Regions from separate parts of the Homo sapiens genome. Here all the other regions are linked to region 1. Evidence: fine-mapped expression QTL. A gene starts in region 1. Each other region holds a variant in brackets. All regions are shown on one strand. Distances are between the middles of the regions. Region 1 holds the start of DIRC3 (disrupted in renal carcinoma 3). Region 2 overlaps DIRC3-AS1 (DIRC3 antisense RNA 1). Region 3 has its middle 21 kb from the start of DIRC3-AS1. Region 4 overlaps TNS1 (tensin 1).

Evidence for each region. PIP is the estimated chance that this variant, and not a neighbour inherited with it, causes the effect.
Region 2: its variant is the best candidate, but not a certain one, in a credible set for the expression of DIRC3 in testis (GTEx, PIP 0.52).
Region 3: its variant is the best candidate, but not a certain one, in a credible set for the expression of DIRC3 in aorta (GTEx, PIP 0.83).
Region 4: its variant is the best candidate, but not a certain one, in a credible set for the expression of DIRC3 in tibial artery (GTEx, PIP 0.53).

What each region holds. Positions count from the first base shown.
Region 1 is chr2:217,788,424-217,792,477 of GRCh38, forward strand. It overlaps DIRC3 (disrupted in renal carcinoma 3), which reads right to left and starts at 2,020. Exons shown (of 13, transcript NR_186301.1): 1 at 1,661-2,020.
Region 2 is chr2:217,282,993-217,287,046 of GRCh38, forward strand. All of the region lies in intron 1 of DIRC3-AS1 (DIRC3 antisense RNA 1), which reads left to right. DIRC3 (disrupted in renal carcinoma 3) reads right to left here. Exons shown (of 13, transcript NR_186301.1): 13 at 1,027-1,871. Among named protein-coding and RNA genes, the nearest start is that of DIRC3-AS1, 2.3 kb to the left of the region's middle. The variant C/T (reference allele first, on the strand shown) is at 1,585.
Region 3 is chr2:217,259,846-217,263,899 of GRCh38, forward strand. No RefSeq gene overlaps it. Among named protein-coding and RNA genes, the nearest start is that of DIRC3-AS1, 21 kb to the right of the region's middle. RefSeq lists an enhancer at 1,069-2,268. The variant A/G (reference allele first, on the strand shown) is at 1,613.
Region 4 is chr2:217,804,656-217,808,709 of GRCh38, forward strand. TNS1 (tensin 1) reads right to left here. Exons shown (of 33, transcript NM_001387777.1): 31 at 3,948-4,016; 32 at 3,420-3,452. Among named protein-coding and RNA genes, the nearest start is that of DIRC3, 16 kb to the left of the region's middle. The variant T/G (reference allele first, on the strand shown) is at 1,567.

The DNA.
Region 1 (4,054 bases):
CCTTTTAGGGAAAAGAGGACTATTTACTTTTTAATTTTACTTTCAATCAGTCAGATTCAGTTCCACGTTCATAGAGACTTGGGGTAGTTCAGTGAAATCAGAGCCTGGGTGTCCTTGGAGAAAGGTTGATGTTCATGCTCACTCTTTTTGTGGGGGTCATTGACTCTGAAAAAGAGGGAAGTCTAATAACTGAGTCTGGGAAATAAAGATGCCTGCATTTCAGGTTCTCTGACCCAGATCCCGGAGGATGGGGAGCAGCTGTTTCCATCTCCGCAGGTGCTAGAACCTCTAGGAATGTAGTCACTTGGAAGGGGAGAAGCAAGAGTGAGTGGAATAGAACTTCCAGAGGTCAAATCACCCGAAAGGTCCAGTGGAGCTGAACACTGCACCGTCTGCCACAGGAGAGGCGCTCACCTGCCCTGCCAAGCAGCAGGCCGGCTGCAGGGGAATGGACAGGTTGGCCTTGCAGACTCAGCGAGCAAGCACTAGGGCATGGGCTATGCAGGGCTGTGAGAGGGCAGCCCAGAGACACCCAGGTCCCAAAGGCCCAAAGAACGGGACATGGGGGTTTTGAGAGGGGAAGGATCTTGCCTAGGCCCCGTTGTGTCCAGTGCCCCTTCTGCTGAGCCACACCCTGGAGCCCTGGAGCTCTCTGGCTCCTGCCACTGCTGACTGCCTGAGTGGTGGTCATTGAGAAATGATTGAGAAAATCTGGGCCAGGTCCAATCCGCCACGAGGGATGATTGATAATGGGAACAGAGACTGTGGGTCTCCGTCCTCACCGCTGTACTGAAGCTTTTAATAATCAGCCTGTCTCTAAGTACCTGAAGACTCTCGGCTTCCAGCTGTCTATTAATTGTGCCTCTCAGGCCCTTGGACAGTTGATTCAGCCTACTGCCCACTGTGACCGCTTCCAGGAAAGGCAATGAGTGGCTGCGGTTCCCAAGTTGGCCACTAGAGGGAGCCGTAGCCCGTGGCAGCTCTGCCTTAACTGGCGGGGGAGAAGAAAACCAAAGGGTCACAGAATCCCTGCCTGTATGGACATCCCAAAGTCCTCCCTTAGCTCTCCCCAGTCCAAGTTTAGGCCCCTCCTGTTTTCAGAAGTTCTTGAAAAGGGAGGTCCATCCTCCCCTGAGGACCACTGGCAGCAGCTCCTGCCGAAACCCTGCCTACAGGTGCCTCAGCGGGGTGGGGCCTTGGGGGAGGCTGCCTGGGAGACAGAAGGCAGATGAGATGGGAAACGGAGGGACAGAGAGGAGGGAAGGCAGAGGGCAAATGCAGACAGGATGGGCTGGAAGGGAGGAGGCGCTGAAAAGGGAGACGGGGGAGACTGGAAACAGGAGAGAGGAGACCCCAAGGGGGAAACCTCGAACTCAGCCTCCCCCACCTGCCCTTCCTGCCGGTCCCAAATACTCATCCAGAGGAGGGCCCGACTCCCTCCCTCCAGTGTCTGCTGTTGCTCCCGGCCTGCCCTGTTTACCTGGCCAGCCACGGTCTCCCAAACACCAATCCAGGATTTGGGGTTATTAGAGGCTGGGGAGGGTGAGATCCTGGAGCAGGAATCGGAGAAGAGGAAGCGCAGTGAGACGGCTGTAACCCAGCACCAGGCACACACAGAACGCTGACGCTGCCCTGAATTCCACCCAGCTGCGGCTCTCACCTGATCTCCACCTCTCTTATATCTGCTTGGGATAGAGTTCAGCTGTTTTTAGTCATCTGAAGGACTGTCATTCACAGAAGGCTTCTCCTTCCCCGGCTGACACCTGCTGATACTGCAGCAGGAATGATCCAGGTTAGGTATCAGAAGCTCCTTCCAAAAGGCTGCCCCAGGAGGGGGCTTCAGCTTTCTGGGACACATCTCCTTCCTTCCTGGCCTCTGTCCTCGCCATCCTGACGTCTACGCAGGAGAAACCTTGGCCAAAGTGACTAACGGAAGCAAAGAGTAAAGCCCAGGAAAACACGTCGATTGGGGTGGGTGGGGGTCAAGGTCTTCCGAGCTGTCTATACTTGCTGTGTCTCTACTTCCTATTCACTCATCAGTTCACCAACTCTACAAATCTCGTGAGACTTTCATGAGCCTGACGCTGTGCTAAGCCACTTCCTCAGCCTCCTGCCCCCTACTGATGCTGTCGCTCTTTTCCCAAAGAAAAGGACAAGGATGATTTCTTTGTGGCCAAATTCAGTGTCCTTCTTCTGGGGCTCACTAACTTTGATCCTAAGGTGGTGGCTGGACTGTTGACCAGCCATTCTTTCCTTCTAGAAAAGAAGAAAAGCTCCTTTCCCCATCAAAACACCACCCCTTCTAGGTCCTCCTCCTTCCTCTCTGAGACCTCTGTCTTCTTCACAGGACCTTCTCCTCCTCTCCTTCCCTTCTCCTTACACAGCAATGTTCCCCTGCTTCCACCCACGACTCTCCTCTGTCTACAGTACCTCTGTGTCAGGATGACTCACAGCCTGCAAAGGCACAGCAATATTCCTATGTCTCTATTTTCTACATCACACAACCCTCTCTGCAGCACTAGCAAGAAACTTTAGGTTGTATCTAACACTTGGAGCTTAGATAGCACCAAGGCCTGGAGACAGGCCCACCTGGTCATCCAGTCTGTTGTCCTCAGAGATGTCCACCGTCTAGTCTGGGTGGCCCTGTGAGTTAAGCTGCTCTTTCTGCAGTCTCTAGACTCCACACATGGAGCATAGAAAGCTCTGCCCTGCAGCCTCAGGCCTTGTCCTCTGTGCCCGAGATACAGGGGAATGGACAGATTGACCTTGCAGAGGAGTAAGCACGAGGACAGAGGCCATGCAGAGAGGCAGTCACCTCCCTGGAGATAATGTTGAGAACTCCATGCAGCCACCCACCCCAACCCCAGACCCTTTCTCATTCTCTTTCTCCAGTCCAAGGGGGGCATTTGAACTGACCCAACTTGAGTCACGAACTCATCCCTGGACCAGTCTGCAGTATGACTGGAGGAAGTGGTCAAGATATCTCAATACACTGACATGGCCCCTGGTACCCATCCCTACACATCCCCCCCTTCCCATGAAAGAGGGGGACTCAAGCTGTTCAGCTACCCCCTCCCCATATGGTATCTAATATAACTCTTAAATCTTTCCCTCCAGCACATGTTGGAGTATGAATCAGAAATTTCCAGTTGTTCCCAATACCCACTCTCCTCTCCTCCTTTACTAATAACTCCCCAGAAGTATGGCTGTACTCATGGCTGCAAGGTATAAAAATGGCATTTCCCAGCAGCTAGTTGAGGCCATGTGACAGTTCTGGCTATTGTGATCTGAGCAGAAACAATGTATATACTGTAAATGTACCACATCCTTAAAGAGAAGGGCACGCCCTCTCCTTCCTCTTTTCCTGCTTTTCACTGACTAGAATGCAGTTGTAATGGCAGGAGCTGGAGCAACCATAATGGACCACATATTGAGGATGGCAGGGCGATCAAATTGAAGGGCCCTGGGGTCCTGACTAATTTCATAGGGGAGAGCTATAATACAAGTAAGACAAAAACAAATGGCCACATTTAAGTGTTTGGTAATTCAAAGTCTTTGTTATAGAAGCTGCACTAATATTCTAACTGATACAGAGCTAAAGAGATCTTCAAGCCAGGTACAGTGGCTCACGCCTGTAATCTCAACACTTTGGGAGGCTGAGGCAGGAGGATCACTTGAGCTTGGGAGTTCAAGACCAGCCTGGGCAACCTAGCAAGACCTCATCTCTGCTACAAAAAAAAAAAAATTGAAAAAATTAGCTGGGCATCGTGACACACACCTGTAAGTCCCAGCTATTCAGGGGGCTGAGGTGGGACAATTTCTTGAGCCCAGGAGGACAAAGCTGCAGTGAGCTATGATTGCACCACTGCACTCCAGCCTGGGCAATGGAGCAAGACCCTGTCTCTATAAAAAACAAAAACAAGAGATCTTCAGTCCATTTCTATAGCACTTTCCAGCTATGAGATTTGGAGCAAACTACTTAATCCTTCTGAGCTTTCATTTTCTTAGCTGTCTGCCTATTTCCCACAATCATTTTATAAAATGAATGAAATAG
Region 2 (4,054 bases), 510 kb before region 1:
CTCTTTTTCCATGTTTCAGATTTCTCCTCTGTATAATAAGGGGCTTAGGTTCTACGGTTTCTAAAAGATCCTTCCAGTCCTAGAAATCTCTGATCCTACAATATATTACCCCTTAGAAATGATTATTTTAACGAAAAAGAATGTAAATTTCTCATCTTCAAAATAAAGACATGCCTTTTCCACTACCCCCACTCTCCCACTTTATGACATGGAGGAGATTGAGAAGATGCTGTTTAGTGACAGACCAGATTCCTTTGGAGACCAGGGAGTTGGGGGGAGTACAAATATCATATTCAGGACAGAAATTCAGACTTCAATGCTGCAAGTCTTGCCTCTCAACTCTCCATGCACTATCAATTTTATTATTTATCTACTGACTTTCCTGAGTAGGAAAGAGATCAGGTCAAGTAGCATACAATATCCTTCTTATTCCCCTGCGGATGTCTGAGGCTTCTTTCCCCTTTGGTCCAATCTGATTTGTATGTCTTCTGGGTTAATACCCCCAGAGTGCTCTAGGCTGCTTTCTGCCTAAATGTCACATAAATCAAAGTGTGTAATCTTGCAAGGGTGAGGAGTGGTGGAGAGTCAGCCAGGATCGAGATGCTAAGGACAGACTGAGCCATCCCATTTCCCCACTTCCCAGACCTTGTTCTTGCCCTCCTGCAAAGCCTTAGGAAGGCCTCATGGGGGGAGCTTGAACTCATTCCCACGCACTCCTGATGGTTCCAGCTACTCAACCTTTTACTAAATGGCTCTGCACAGCTGTTTCTAGTTACGTGTCTATTTACGTTGTTGGTGTACGTGTGCTTGTGTACCATGTGTGCATCTTATCCCCTCAGTTCCCCAGCTACCCGAGGCCTCCAGTGAATCCACATGATGTCATTTGGAATCCCAAGTGGAGGCAATCACAAAGCAACATAATGTTCAAATTCAGCAAGCATTTACAAAGGTTGTATGCATCTTCTTTGTCATTCATAAAGGCAAGGGAAGTTAGAATTCAGGAAATAAGATGCAAAGACTCATGAATGTCTTCAGATTCCAAAAGAGTAAATTTTACTATTGGAGTACAGTTAGATTGTAATCCTCTTGAAACAGATACTTTTTCCTTTCTTAATCACCTAGATGACAAATGTAAGACTTACCCCTGACTTGGTCCATTGATTTGTTCATTCACTAATTCAACAACATTTACTAAGTTTCTCCATGTACACTGGACTGCTCAAAGCTCTATAGGAGATACAGTAATGTGCTTTGCTGCCTCTGAATGGAGCAGTGTCCCTCCCAGCCTATGGGCATGGCTAAATTTTAGAAGGATTCTTCTGCTTGTCTTCAACTTCAAAGATCAGCCTGAACACGGAGTGAAATCACCAGTGTTCCTGGCAGGAAGAGACCCTGTTCCACACCCAACACATCATCCTAATAGTAGGCTTTTGACACAGTCCTATTAAATAATGAAGCATGTCTCTGTCTAAGTTTATATAATCAGTACTTCATAATTCAGAAACTTTGCCTCTCAGAGGTCGATCAGCAAGCTCAGTGAGTTCCTATAAACCAGTTTGAAAGGAATTACTGTCTGGAGGCATA[C/T]TCCCCATTCTGCCTGCCATGGTTGCCAAATGGTGGCTTTTCTAATTTTTTCATTCCTTTCTGCATTTATTAATTGACTTTCTAATATAAGGAAGAGCTTTCTTTTCCTCCTACTCATTTAGTTAAATCAGATTTTTCTGATTTAACTAATAGGCTATAATCCTTTATTATTACAAATTTATTTTGATGTCCACGATGTCCCAGAGTTGGCCAGTAGAAGCGCCCACAATCTGGCTTCCGTATCCTTTTGAAATGTCTCCATCATTCTTTGGGAACATTCTTAATTTCTGAAAAAAAAAAATATATTTCAGGTTCATCTTTTACTTTCTCTCCCTTAGCTACAGAATCAGTCATTTTTTTTTCAAAGAGCCCTAATTCCTTTTAGTAGAGAATAGTATTTAAAAACCAAGATCGGGAAGCCAGGTGGTCTCGCTGCACTGCAATTCCTTGGTTTTAGGCCCTCTAAGAATACACAGCTAGGAAATAGATTTATGTACACACACACACACACACACACACACACACACCTGCATCCACATACATCTCAATATTTATATCCACATAGGTCGATCTCTTTTTGTAGCTATCTAGATAGTATATGCCATGAGTTCTCACTGAAAGCTCCAATTCCAATCCAACACCACTGAAGTGTTGCTAACATTTCCCCTCACCATGTTTGTAACTACCTTCTCTTATAAGGTGAACACTGGCTGCCATCTTCTATAATATATTTACTTATTTGCTCAATACTAGAATTCACACAGAATAGTTTCAGAATTGCTATCCTGTGCCTCTATGAAAAGCAAGCCTCCCTCCACAGAACCAATGATTGTTTAGAATTTTATTCTTTGGCCCGAGCACATCTTGTCAAAGAATACATGAGTTAGTTAGTTCTTTCTTTAGCATCAGGTTAGTTTTTCTTTAGCACCAGCCTTATTTCCCCTCTTCAACATCGCTTTGAGACATGCCCTGAATCTTTGTTTTAGCCATCTCCAAAATAAGCTAAAGCCTCATTTTTGGTGCTCTGGTGCTGCTGCTGGAGCCAACACATGTCTCTCTGGAACACCAAGTAAATATTCAATGCATGTTTGCTCACTCCGCCTTCCTGTGAAGCTAATCCAACAAATAGATGACAGAAATATCTTCATTTCCACAAATGCACTTGTGAGCTTATAATAAGAGTCTTATCTCCCAGGGCTATCCACATTCCCATGGCTTCCCCATTCCCCATGTTTAGATACCAAAATCCTTCTTCACTTTTAGACAAGTCTTAATTCATCTTCCCTATAAAGGCTTCGTAATACCTCTTTACCTAAACATAGAGCCTAGCCCCACAAATGCCGTGTTCATAGATTTAGAAGCTCGTTTCATATTTATCAAGTTCTCACATTCTCCATCTTTCATATTTTAAAATATTTATTTAATTAAATTTATGAGCCAGAAATTGAAAAACATATGGAGTGAAGGGAAGGAAAGAAGGAAAAAAATAGCTCATTCATTCAACTTTTCCCAGCTGCCATTCCTGACTCGGGAGATTTGGCTGAGTTCTTGGTTAATGCCATGCAATAAAACTTCCATAGGATGCCAAATTTAGGTCCAGCATGAAAAGAAAACAAAATCCCTCCTATAAGACAAACTATTCAATTTGGAAATGGGATTTTTTTTTTAAGTCCTGCGCTTAAACCTTCATAGTGATTGTTTCCACAAGGGCGAGAATCAGCCCACCCCTTGGAAAGCTTCTGAATGGGGCAGTGTAGAAAATTTTAAGAAACATTTATTTCTCTGAATGGAGAACTGTTACTCTTGGGGGCTCTGCTTTCTCCTTTTTGGACAGAATCCACTCTGCCCTATCCCGGCTAGAAGAAGAAAAGGTGTAGCGTGCAGGCAGGGAGGACGAGTCCAGGTGCTGGACACTGCACAATGGGTCCTATTCTTTGTTATTTGCAATCCATCTTTCTCAAAGTTGGCTCACAAGAAGTACATCTCCTTGTGCAGTTAACCCGCTGGACTACCCTACCTGAGAACATGGGTGGGTACTTTCTCAACACATATAAGGTCCAACACATGACAAGTGACAGAGTGAGATGAAGCTTTCCAAACTGGCATGAGTTTTGTACAGTTTCATATATGGTCTGATTACCTGGTTACCTACGGTCTGGTCACCTGGTGACTTTTATTGTCCTGTCTCTACCTATGTATGTATGTATCTCCACCTATATACTTTTATTGTCGTATCTCTACCTATGTTTTACACACACACACACGCACACACATTATATATATGTTATGTTGCAGTTATATTTTATTATCACTTTTAAGATGGAAAGTTTTGCATTCCAGGAAACCCTCAGTCCTGAGAAGACTGGGGCATTAGATCACCCTGTGTTGCAGAGTTTTTCAAATGGCAAGTATTAATTATTATTTAGATTGCACATGTATTTACGCCCCAAACTAAAATGCTCTGAAACCA
Region 3 (4,054 bases), 530 kb before region 1:
TAGCTGTCCTATCATGCCACAGTAACTCCGGGTCTCTGAGACAAGTGTCCTGAAACTCTTGAGTTCTCACATGCCCTTTCATCTTTCCCTCTTTTTTGATCAATCCAACCAATTCATGGCTTCCTGTTGAATGTTATTTTATAATAATATGGTTTATGTTATTAACACTCTTTAATGTTATTCAAGCCCATCTTCTATCATGTCATTGCTTAAAAAGCCTCAACAGTTCCTTAGGGTCAAGCCCACTGTGTGTGAGCTTCTTAACTGGGCATTTAGAATCCTCTCCAATATCCTCCACTACCTATGATTTATATTTTAGCCAAAATGGACCCTTTATAATCTTGAACTTCATTGCATGTCTGCACTTCTATACCAGTGCTGAATCCCAAACTGAAATCTGGTTCATATTTCATGAAACAGCTGGTTTTTACACCCACATCTTGAAATCTCTTTCTATTCCCTCACCTAGATACAAACTCTTCAAGGGGCCAGTAGAGTATAGTGGCTAAAATCTTGGATTCTAAAACCCAGCTGTCAAGGTTCAAATCCCAGCCACACCATGTGCTGACTGTGAGATCATATACAAGTCTCTTTTCACTTCACATCTGTTTCCTTATCTGGAAAATCAAGAATATTAATCAGATATTAAATGAGATAATATACATTTAATCTAGTCCGTGGAACCCTGTAAGCATGCAGCAACTGCGAGCTATTATGGCAGATGCTGTTGCTAGCCCACCCACATCCTCTTGGTATTTGTCTCTACATTCTCAACCTGTTTATAGAAAACATTCGTGACTCTCTGTAGTCAAGATAGCATGCTCAGCTCTCATACAGGGCAGAGCAGAAGTTTCTGAGATGTAATCAGTCTCCCAAGAAGCGACACTCAGACAATGACCAATGGAGAGTCAGTGGATGAATACCCCTTGTTAGGAATAACTCTGAACCCTATTCTAGAGTGTGGACAGCATAGAATCTCTTATTGTCTCCCAGACTTCCCCAGCAGGCTGTAACATCAGTTGCCCGCAATGGTAATTGGCTTGGCAGATACCTTCTGTCAGCTCCTTTGCCTTCCCTAACTTACTCTCCACTCTCTTTTATGTATTTCCTGGGATCGTTTCCCAAAACTACTTGGATTCTTGTCTCCGGGTTGGCTTCTGGAGGACTCTAAAACCATAACTGCTCTTATCACTACAGCTGACTTCTTTGAAACCATGAAAATACTGCTTTATTTGCATTCGTCTTCTGCTAGTTAGAGTCTACCTTCATAAAACCTAAAATCCAACAAAAAATTAAGACCAAAATACAAATATTTCTCACAGTACCTCTCACATAGAAGTTACTCAATCTGTATTTAGAGAGCAAAGAATAATGGGAGATCAAAAGATTACTCTGTGACTATAAAAATAGAGCGAGGACTATTGATTGGTTACTAAGAATATTTTACAAACTTTTATGGTTTGACACACCCTTTTAATGGTGGTATGTCTACCTAATATATCTGCACCTTCCCAAAATCCCCTCCCCTCGATGTCAGCATCAGGACTCCCCTCCTCCTCTAGCTAGATTTGAGAGACACTTGCCATTATCTCATCATTATTTTATCATGTTA[A/G]TGTACTTGTGTAACCTTTTATATTTTCTAAATATGAAAAATATTTTACAGAGATTACATTTGACGCAGCTGCTTCCTGAAGACCTAGAGATCACTTTAATCTTACAAGCACATTCTTCAGATTGTCGTGTGGGTGGGTAACTTCCGCCAGACTTTTCTGGAGATGGCTAATCCAGCCGTGGGATGTGGTTTCTTCTAACAGCCAGTCAGGAAAATCTTGCTTCTCAAACTCCTGTCTTGACCCCTTCCTGAACTTTGCCTCCTGGATCTTGAGGTCTGCCTTCTGTGGAAGAGAAATACTAGAATCAATGAACTGTGAACTAGAGCCCTGGGATTATCAACAGGTAATGGTGATACTGCAGCAGTTGGCTGCATGAGATTTGTGATTACAGACTTGAGAGTGGCTGTCACCTTTGGTGCTACCAGAAGTAGCTTTCAAAACTGCCCTTCTGTAACAGAGAATTCTAGAAGGGTGGTCCATGGACCATCTATATTAGAAGGACTTCTGGCTCTGCTTCGCCTGCGGATTACTGGTCCTGCTCAGGCAAACTGAATCAGAATCACTTGTGAGGATGCTTCAATTTGCATTTGTAGACAAACTCCTCAGGTGATAAGGTGACCAAATTATCCAAGTTTTAGCATTGAAAGTCCCACATTCAGGAAAGCCTTTAGTCCTGAGACACTTGGTCACCAAGTGGATATGTCTTATGTACATTGAATTCTTAGAGCTGTCTTACAGACCCCAAGGTATGCCACACTAACACGGATGCTACTTTTACTCGGTAAGAATCTCTGAGACTTTGAGATGACTTTAATCCAGTGTGACATTGGGTGGGGAGCTCCCTCAGACATCGATCTTGATAAGATCCTTCCATGGGAACTTGAGTGTTTGAGAGACCCAGAGTATGTGTTTTGTTACTTTACTTTTCCTTTCTTTTGAACCTCATGTGCAAGGAGTTGAACTTGGTCTTGAGTTTATAGTACACAATTTAATTCTGTATCTACAAGGCCCTTCTCTGGATTTATGTGGTTATTTATTCTCATTTCCCCACCAGCTCTCCATGCCCAGCAGGCAAACATTACAATGTGATTGTTTTATACTCTGAATTTGTTTGTATCTTTGTAAAGCATATAACATTGTTCCTGTGTATTTTAATTTAAACATATTGTATTCTGCTGCAGACTTCACCCTAACTCTTGCCTTTTTCTGTTAAGTATTGTGTTTAATGCTGCATGGTCCTTTGACCTGTTGTTTCTTGTGGTAGGCAGCTCTTAAGGTGGCTCCCAATAATGGTGCCCTGTTGGTACCCATGTCCCTGTACAATCACCTTACCTTGATTGTGGACTATACTTAGTGACCTGCACTTAGTGAACAGAATGTGGCAAAAAGTGACAGTATGTTACTTTTGAGACTAAGTTATAAAAAGCCTTTGTCTTCTTCTCTTGTGCCCTCCCTTGCTCACTCTGGTGGAAGCCAGCTGAAATTTTGAGAGCCACCTTATAGAAAGCCTAACAGCAAAGACTGGAGAGAGGCTTCCAGCCAACAGCCAGCAAGGAATTGAAGCCCTCAGTCCAATAGCAGTGAGGAATTGAATCCTGCCAACAGCCTCGTGGGTGAGCTTGGAAGCAAATCCTATTCTAGTCTAGTAGAGACTTGAGAGGACCCATAGCTCTTGCCAACACTTGATTGCAGCATTGTAAGAGACCCTGAGCCAAAGGACTCAGCTACACCATGCTGGCTCCTCGCCCATAGAGACCATGATATAATAAATGTTTGTTATTTTAAGATGTTAAACTTGGAGTAATTTGTTACACAGCAATAGATAACTGATATGCTTCTAATCATTGCATGGTGTCCATAGCATATTTTTACCACATTTTACTTGTCCACTTCCTGCAGATGGGTTGCTTGCTGCCTGAATCTAACTCCTGCTACTACTGCAAATACCACTGCCATGAATATCCTCAGCAAGACCCCCTTCCAGACCTGCATGAACAGTTGTGTGAAATGTATATGCACAAAGGGACTGCAAGGGAAGACCCAGAGACTAGGGAAGAACTTGGAACAATAATCTCAGTTTCTTCAATTCCTAAACTTGAGAGTATTGCTGTTTTTAAATGAAAGTATTTTTTCCCCCTAAGCATTTTGTTCTAAAGTTGAGCTGCCTTTGAGGGGAAATAAAGAGACTACCAGATTAATGGGTTTTTTTCAAATGGGATGGTGGGGTAAGGAATAATCGGGGTGGTCTGTGGAACAACTTGGAGGATTGGTGTTATGTCTCAAGAAGATATTCAAGTATGTTCCTCCTTTTTTACCCAGACCGACTGCTTCATGCTGGGCTTCAGACATGAGAGGCTAGGAGTAGGAGGCATGCCTTGTTCAAAGGTGAGTGGACACATTTATCACCATTAAAACAATGTTTATCTGTTTGGATTTAGTAA
Region 4 (4,054 bases), 16 kb after region 1:
GAGGTGGACAGCAGCCCAGGTGAGCAAGCTGGTCTCAGGCCAACCTCTCTTCCCCATCCCTCCAGCAGGCCTCAGCATCAGGGACTCAGAGAGGTGCAGAAGAGAATCCTCTGTGCACTCCCCTGACCACAAGCCAAGTCCTAGAGACAGTGTCCCACCTTGTTTAAGGGTGGGCAGAAATCCCCTTTGAAGGGGTGCGAGGGGAGCTGCAGAGGATTGACAAGGCTGGATAGTGAGGGGTGGGGAGGAGACCAAAATAAAATGGGAACATTCCTAGACAGGCCTCTCCCCGCCCATCCCAGCCCTACCCCTACTGACTGTTCTTACACACAACACATATGCCAATCAGGAAAGTGCTGTCTGCCTGCAAACGGCTCAGCCTCCTCAGACACCACAAGGTCAGGGAGACAAAGGTCAAGTAGCTCACACCCCTCCACACACACACACTTATTCTTCCTGGGCTCAAGAACCTTGGAAGCCAGAAAATAAAAGGGAAGGTGGACCCCACACCCGTTCCCCACCCCCACCCGCAGGACTGGAGTGACCCAGCATTCTCTTCGCAAAACAGAGTTAAAAATATGAGGGCAGAGAACAGAATGTGAGCTCAGGTCCCCTCCCAGCCAGCATGTTGCTAATTAGAGCGAGATGGGGAAATGAGGACAGCTGGAGATTCCTATGAAAACCCCTCTCCCTACCGCAGGACCACGGCAGCTGAAGTTAGCAAAGGGGGATTCTGCTGGTCCCTGTGTGCCTGTGTGTACAAACCACCACACACATGCACCACACACATACACACCATCACACACACCACCACACACACCACACACACCACACACACACCACACACACCACCACACACACCACACACACCACACACACCACACACACCACCACACACCACACACACCACCACACACACCACACACACAACACACACCACCACACACCACACACACCACACACATACACACCATCACACCCACACACATCACACACACACAACACACATATCACCACACACATACACACCATCACACACATCACCACATGCATACACCACACACACACCACTGCACACACCACACATACCACCACACATACACACCACACACCACCACACACACATACACCACACACACACAAACCATGCATACATACATATACAGACCACACACATACACAACATATACACACCACACACAACACGCAAACACAACATATACACACACCACACACACACACACACACACACACATAATCCAGCATTTCCTACAGCTCTGCTCCTCCAGTCTTGTTTCAGGGGCCAGGAGCAACAGGGCCAAAGGCCTGGGGTAATGCCCAGGTGGTGGGGGAGCTGGGGTCCACAGGGCATCCCCCAGCACCTCCCTTTCCCAGCTGGCTCAGACCATGAGCAGGGGTGGGGGTGATCCTGGCAGAGGGAGGAAGCATGCCAGCCCTGGCTGCGGGTGTCTACCAGGATGGAGACCCGGCAACTGCACCTGACTGGAGCACCGAGCCTGCCCTCCCCTGATATTTCTTTCAGCTGTGGCTTCCAGGCTCCCGCAA[T/G]AGCCCAGTCCTGTCATCTGCCACAAGGAATAGATCCAGGCAAGAAGCCTCAGCCCGCAAGGGCAGGAGGAAGCGCTTGCAAGATCCCAAGATCTAACATCTCCTTGAATTTTGCACATGAGATCCCTGGCTGGCCTCACCTCGTCCCTGTCATGATTCCCTGTTAGCCCACTGCCCTGCTTGGCCTCTCCCTGTGGCCTCTGCCCCACCCATCAAAGCTTCTTCAGCAGGAGGCTCAACTCAAAACCAGCTCCTGAAGGAGGAAAAGAGGGATTTCCAGGCTTGGGGGCCCAGTTCCCTTCTGTCCCTGACCTTCTTCCCTCGCAGGGCCCTGTGGTGAGTGAGCACAAGCCCCTTCAAACAGGAAGTTCCAGCCTGCTGCCTTGGCCAGCAGAGACACGGGAAATGCAGGAACTCAAAGCACTGATGACCCTATGAAGCCTGGACAAGGCTGAACCCCACCATCCCACATGGCCTCTCCTAAGCTACCATCACTGACCATGTGATAGACTAGTCAGTCCATTCATTCGGACTGAGGCATTCTCACTAGCCTCCTCCTGCCTCTGCTCTTCCAGCCTCCATTCTCTCATTTCTTCACTCAACAAATATATACCACCTCCCCATGTGTCAGACATGGCCCTTCCCTTGGGGAGCTTGCAGGCTGGTGGCCATGAGGCCCCTCCCCTGAAATAGCCCCTCCTACTCCCATTCTCATTTTGACCTGTCCAAATTGAACCTGTCTTTGAAGACCCGTCCTTAAATATCTGCTCTTTCCACCTCTCTGAGGTGCTGATGTGTTCTCCTGCATGAGCTCCCCAGACGTAAGCTGAACTCTCTTGCTGCCTCTCCCTCCCTTGCAACTGTCATTTTTTTAACACTGAACGTTTTGTTTTTCTAAAGCAACCTTATATGAAGTCTGCATATATAAAGGTGAAAGCAGTATTTTACAGCTATAAACAGCAATCCAAAAGCACGACATTTACCTATTATAAAGTCAATCAGTGAGGATAATAGGGCTGTTGGAATAATCCTGACAAAGTGAAAAGTAGATGACAGATCATGGTGATAGTCTCATGTCAGCTTCAGACCCCAGGTTATGCCTATATTTTGTTTGGTTTTGTGATTGTGAAAAAACCCTAGTTACTGCTGATAGACAACTGCAAGGAGCAGCAGAGCTTTCCCTCTCTTCTGTACATCAGGTACAATCCAAGGATGCTAGGATCCTTGGAATACAGTTTGAAAATCACAGAAGCATCTTAGTGCTATTTAGACATCTGTCTTATCTGCTGTGCCAATGGGCCTCCTGAGGGCAGGGTCAGAGACCCAGGCAGGATCTGAGTCCCTTGGAGGCCCCTAGGACATGTCTGCTGGATGGAGGAATCCACCCGAAGGTCCCAGGGCCATCCCCAGAATTCAGACTTTCTGGGCTCCCACATTCTGATAAGGCTGATTTGCTCGGCCACAAGACTCACAGGAAAGCCCACCAAAAAAGCAAGAGCAGAAATAAAGGCAGCTAGAATTGGGGCAGAAAAGATCATGTAAGCAATCTCTGACCCATTTCCATTGCTTCTAATAAGACTGTTTTCTGTCCACTTCCTGCCATCCCTGCTGCTTCTAACCCTGGGAGAGTGAAGGCAGCTGGACCAGACGCTGGGCCTCTGGCCTCGAGGCAGGACAAGGCAAAAGGCCTGGAAGCCTGGTCAAGCTTCACTCGGAAGCTGAGTGACCTTGGCACAAAGGTTTTTGCTGCTCTTTCCCTACCCCCAGCCCTGGTTTCTAAATGTGCCCCGTGCTTCCCTCACTGTGAAGTACAAAGGCCAGCCTGCTGGGCAGGGGTAAGAAGTCACACTTACTTAGCAGGGGCACCACCCTCTGTTTTCATCCACCTGTGGAGAGAAAGTGGGCTCAGGGTAAATCATCGTACTTTCTCCCTAGAGCCCAGCCCCACCCATGCCCAGACCCTCTGCAGGAAGGTCTGGGGAGAGGAGCTGCCCCCCATTCCCCCCTCATTCCCCCATTCCCCCATTCCCCAGGGACAGGAGCTGCCCAAGATCACACAGATGCATTCAAGGTCGAGAGAACACTGCAGCCTGCCTCCTGAGGGGCTCTCCCCATCATGGAGAGGAGAAGCAGATTCAAGGTCAGGGCATGGCAGAGGGGGTAGCAGTGGGCACTGAGTCCCTGGGAGGGTCTCCATATCTATAGTGGGAAAGACTCAAAAGATGCCCAACACGATTACTCACACATGGGCAGACCTTCCAGCTGAATGGAGAATGTATGCACATGCACACACACACACACACACATGCACATGCATGCACCCACACAGACGTCAGTGTTAGAAAGCTGTGTGGGAGAGAAGCTGTGTACAAGAGACTTACTTTCTTTCCTGTGGATCCAGGTCACAGAAGGTGACAGTGTTGAGAGGGTAGTGGCGTCTGAAAAAGAGCCTGCAGCACAGACATCAGATAAACAGAGAATGAGTGCT